Regions from separate parts of the Homo sapiens genome. Here region 2 is linked to region 1. The links come from fine-mapping of genetic effects on gene expression. Tissue or cell type: thyroid. Region 1 holds a variant in brackets; the other region holds the start of a gene. All regions are shown on one strand. Distances are between the middles of the regions.

Region 1 (2,758 bases):
GGCTGAAGACTGATGCTGCCCAATCGCCTCGGAAGCTCTGTAGACCATCACGGATGCCGAGCTTCGGGTAACACTCACGGTGGAAGGTAAGTCCGTCGCCTTAGTCAATACGGAGGCTACCCACTCCACATTACCTTCTTTTCAAGGGCCTGTTTCTCTTGCCTCCATAACTGTTGTGGGTATTGACGGCCAGGCTTCTAAACCCCTGAAAACTCCCCCACTCTGGTGCCAACTTGGACAACACTCTTTTATGCACTCTTTTTTAGTTATCCCCACCTGCCCAGTTCCCTTATTAGGCCGAGATATTTTAACCAAATTATCTGCTTCCCTGACTATTCCTGGACTACAGCCGCATCTCATTGCCACCCTTCTCCTCAACCCAAAGCCTCCTTCGCGTCTTCCTCTCCTATTCCCCCACCTTAACCCACAAGTATGGGACATCTCTACTCCTTCCCTGGCAACTGATCACATACCCGTTACCATCCCATTAAAACCTAATCACCCTTACCCTGCTCAATGCCAATATCCCATCCCACAGCACACTTTAAAAGGATTAAAGCCTGTTATCACTCGCCTGCTATAGCATGGGCTTCTAAAACCTATAAACTCTCCTTACAATTCCCCCATTTTACCTGTCCAAAAACCGGAAAAGTCTTACAGATTAGTTCAGGATCTGCGCCTTATCAAATTGTTTTGCCTATGCACCCTGTGGTGCCCAACCCCTACACTCTTTTGTCCTCAATACCTTCCTCCACAACTCACTATTCCATGCTTGATCTTAAAGATGCTTTTTTCACTATTCCCCTGCACCCCTCGTCCCAGCCTCTCTTCGCTTTCACTTGGACTGACCCTGACACCCATTAGGCTCAGCAAATTACCTGGGCTGTACTGCTGCAAGGTTTCACAGACAGCCCCCATTACTTCAGTCAAGCCCAAAGTTCATCCTCATCTGTTACCTATCTCGGCATAATTCTCATAAAAACACACGTGCTCTCCCTGCTGATCGTGTCTGACTGATCTCTCAAGCCCCAGCACCTTCTACAAAACAACAACTCCTTTCCTTCCTAGGCATGGTTAGCGCGGTCAGAACTCTTACACAAGAGCCAGGACCACACCCTGTAGCCTTTCTGTCCAAACAACTTGACCTTACTGTTTTAGCCTAGCCCTCATATCTGCGTGCTGTGGCTGCCGCTGCTTTAATACTTTTAGAGGCCCTCAAAATCACAAACTATGCTCAACTCACTCTCTACAGCTCTCATAA[T/C]TTCCAAAATCTATTTTCTTACTCACACCTGATGCATATACTTTCTGCTCCCTGGCTCCTTCAGCTGTACTCACTCTTTGTTAAGTCCCACAATTACCATTGTTCCTGGCCCGGACTTCAATCTGGCCTCCCACATTATTCCAGATACCACACCTGACCCCCATGACTGCATCTCTCTGATCCACCTGACGTTCACCCCATTTCCCCACATTTCCTTCTTCCCTGTTTCTCACCCTGATCACACTTAGTTTATTGATGGCGGTTCCACCAGGCCTAATCGCCACACACCAGCAAAGGCAGGCTATGCTATGGTACAAGCCACTAGCCAGCCTCTTAGAACCTCTCATTTCCTTTCCATTGTGGAAATCTATCCTCAAAGAAATCACTTCTCAGTGTTGCATCAGCTATTCTACTACTCCTCATGGATTATTCAGGCCCCCTCCCTTCCCTACACATCAAGCTCAAGGATTTGCCCCCGCCCAGGACTGGCAAATTAGCTTTACTCAACATGCCCCGAGTAAGATAACTAAAATACCTCTTAGTCTAGGTAGACACTTTCACTGGGTAAGTACAGTCCTTTCCTACAGGGTCTGAGAAGGCCACCGCAGTCATTTCTTCCCTTCTGTCAGACATAATTCTTCAGTTTAGCCTTGTCATTCCCTTCTGTCAGACAAAATTCCTCAGTTCAGCCTTCCCACCTCTATACAGTCTGCTAACAGACCAGCCTTTATTAGTCAAATCAGCCAAGCATTTTTTCAGGCTCTTAGTATTCAGTGACAGACTAATGGTCTATTAAAAACACACCTCACCAAGCTCAGCCACCAACTTAAAAAGGACTGGACAATACTTTTACCATTTTCGCTTCCAGAATTCAGGCCTGTCCTTGGAATGCTACAAGATACAGCCCATTTAAGCTCCTGTGTAGACACTCCTTTTTATTAGGCCCCAGTCTCATTCCAGACACCAGACCAACTTAGATTGTGCCCCAAAAAACTTGTCATCCCTACTATCTTCTGTCTAGTCATACTCCTATTCACCGTTCTCAACTACTCACACATGCCCTGCTCTTGTTTACACTGCCAGTTTACACTGTTTCTCCAAGCCAGCACAGCTGGTATCTCCTGGTACTATCCCCATACCGCCACTGTTAACTCTTAAAATAAATAAATAATCTTTGCTGGCAAGGCTATGCTGAACCTCCTTAGGCACTTTCTAATTAGATGTCCTGAGTCGTCCCAATTCTTAGACCTTTAATACCTGTTTTTCTCCTTTCCTTATTCCCTTTAGTTTTTCAATTCATACAAAACTGTATCCAGGCCATCACCAATAATTCTAAATGACAAATGTTTCTTTTAACAATCCCACAATGTCACCCCTTACCACAAAATCTTCCTTCAGCTTAATCGCTCCCACTTTAGGTTCCCACGCCGCCCCTAATCCTGCTCAAAGCAGCCTTGAGAAACATCACCCATTATCTCTCCATACCACCCCCAAAAA
Region 2 (2,758 bases), 55 kb before region 1:
CAGCTTCCCGGCCGGGTGCGGTGGCTCATGCCTGTAATCCCAGCACTTTGGGTGGCCGAGGCAGGTGGATCACCTGAGGTCAGGAGTTTGAGACCAACCTGGCCAACATGGTGAAACCCCGTCTCTACTAAAAATACAAAAATTAGCCGGGTGTGGTGACACGTGCCTGTAGCCCCAGCTACTCGGGAGGCTGAGGCAGGAGAATCGCTTGAACCTAGGAGGCAGAGGTTGCAGTGAGCTGAGATCGCCCACTGCTCTCCAGCCTGGGTGACACAGTGAGACTGTCTCTCAAAAAACAAAACAAAACAAACAAACAAACAAAAACAAATCCTGTGACTTCCCAATCTCATCTCCAGCCCCCTGCAGCCACCACTCTGTTTTCTGTCTCTATGAATTTGACTCCTCCAAGTGCCTCTTATACAGCATTTGGCATTGTGTAACTGGTTTAATACGTTTGAGATGGTGAGAGCTTAAGGTCTACAGGCCTAAGGTTTTTTTTTTTTTGACAGAATTTCACTCTGTCGCCAGGCTGGAATGCAGTAGGGCAATCTCGGCTCACTGCAACCTCCACCTCCCGAGTTCAAGTGATGCTCCTGCTTCGGCCTCCTGAGTAGCTGGGACTACAGGTGAGTGCCACCACATCCAGCTAATTTTTGTATTTTTAGTAGAGACAGGGTTTCACCATGTTGGCCAGGCTGGTATCAATCTCCTGACCTCGTGATCCATCTGTCTCGGCCTCCCAAAGTGCTGGGATTACAGGCGTGAGCCACCGTGCCCGGCCATTGACTAAGGTCTTAAAATAGCTCTTCCTGCCTGTATAATCTCCATTATGGCAGGGCTCATATAAGAAGATGACAGTTCATCTGATGAGGAAGAAAACTTACTCCTAGTTAGATTGGGTTGAATTCTTCCCTGTTTCCAGCGGTGTCTGCTCCTGGCACCTCAGGCACAGTCAGGGGTAGGAGGTGGTGATCAGATACACTCGCTGTGAGCAGTGCAAGGGGAAGCAGGTGCCCAGAGGTGCATCCCGGTTTGGTGGGGGTGACAAACATGGACAGGTAAGTGCAGGAGTGTGTGCAATACTCAATCTAAGAAAGGTAGTTCAGGCAGAGTTCAGGGAAGATATCTCTGTGCAGGGCCAGACATGGGGATGAGATTCTGATAATTTGGGAATGAATCAGGCCCCCAGCCCCTCCTCCCTCAGACTCAGCAGTCCAGGCACCCGGCCCTCCTCCCTCGGACCCAGAAGTCCATGCTCCCAGCCCCTCCTCCCTTGGACCCAGGAGTCCAGGCCCCCAGCCCCTCCTCCCTCAGACCCAGGAGTCCAGGCCCCCAGCCGCCTTCTCCTGCAGGACCCCAGGAGCTTGGGTACCCACAGGCTACTAGATCCTTGTTTCTGTGCATGGAAATTCTCAAATTATCTCCAAAAGTCTATGAAGAAGGTAAACACACATTTCCAGATGAGGGAATAGGCTGATATAGTTGAAAGACACACAGAGGGTCACAGTCTGGAATTGACAGTGGTGGGATTCGAACCTATTTCACTCCAGAACTGCGTAGCGCCTTATACGCTGCGGCAAGTGTGACGTCATTCGAACAAACCATAGGCCCCGCCCCCGGACTAGCCACGCCCACAGGCTCCTGAAACCACCAATCCCAGCTGTGACAGCGCTCAGGACCGATGCTCATAGGTCCCGTCCCTAGGATCCCCGCCCCCTCCGCCCGCGCCCCGCCCCTCGCAGCCCAGTTCCGGACGCGGGCCCAGCCGCGCCTGCGCCTCCGCTCGCCTGTGGCTGCGTCGCGCGCTCTTCCTCGGAGCTACCCAGGCGGCTGGTGTGCAGCAAGCTCCGCGCCGACCCCTGACGCCTGACGCCTGTCCCCGGCCCGGCATGAGCCGCTACCTGCTGCCGCTGTCGGCGCTGGGCACGGTAGCAGGCGCCGCCGTGCTGCTCAAGTGAGTACATTCTAGCCCCGCGTGCGCGGTCAAGGCGGGCCCCCAGCGCAGGGGCCGGGAAGGCGGCGGAGACCCCCGCCCCTCGCACCCGGGTCCAGGCCCCGTAGCTCCCGACCCGCAGTGCCCGCCCGGAGTGGGGCAAACCTGCGCTCTGGCCGGCCAGGTCACCGGCCCAAGGTCACTCGGAGGGAAGGGCGAGCCTGGGCCCTTGTAAATGTTGCTTTCCTTCCAGACTTTTAAACTCTTTATTTTGTTGTTTTGTATTATTTATTTGTTCGTTTATTTTTAAAGGCAGAATCTGGCTCTGTCGCCCAGGCTGGAGTGCAGTGGCGCGATCTTGGCTCACTGCAGCCTTGACCTCCTGGGCTCAGGTGATCCTCCCACCTTGGCGTCCCCAGGAGCTGAGATCACACGTGCGCCACCACGCCCGGCTAATTTTTGTATTTTTCGCAGAGACGGGGTTTTGCCATGTTGGCCAGGCTGGTCTCAAACACCTGCCCTCAGGTGATCCGCCTGCCTCGGCCTCCAAAGTGCTGGGATTACAGACGTGAGCCACCTCGCCCAGCCTACTTAATTTAAACTTTCTTAAAAATTAGCCTCTGTGGCTGGTGGCCACTGTATTGCATGGTGCCCTTCTCTCCTGTGGGTGCAGTGCTGTTTACCTGCTCAGCCTCCTGTTGCTGGACACTATCTTGTTGCCAGCGTTAGCCTCTGTGGGACATGGGTGTGGTGGGCAGAGTCGTGACTCCGTAGAGGGGTCCACGTCCTAATCCTCGGAAGGTGTGACGACATTACCTCACGTGT

What was found. PIP is the estimated chance that this variant, and not a neighbour inherited with it, causes the effect.
Region 2: it holds the start of RDH13, and the variant in region 1 is the best candidate, but not a certain one, in a credible set for the expression of RDH13 in thyroid (GTEx, PIP 0.65).

Annotation. Positions count from the first base shown.
Region 1 is chr19:55,007,305-55,010,062 of GRCh38, reverse strand. The region is part of intron 2 of GP6-AS1 (GP6 antisense RNA 1); the gene reads right to left. Among named protein-coding and RNA genes, the nearest start is that of GP6-AS1, 2.5 kb to the right of the region's middle. The variant T/C (reference allele first, on the strand shown) is at 1,262.
Region 2 is chr19:55,062,164-55,064,921 of GRCh38, reverse strand. It overlaps RDH13 (retinol dehydrogenase 13), which reads left to right and starts at 1,774. Exons shown (of 7, transcript NM_001145971.2): 1 at 1,774-1,954. The coding sequence starts at 1,890. RefSeq lists an enhancer at 2,464-2,758.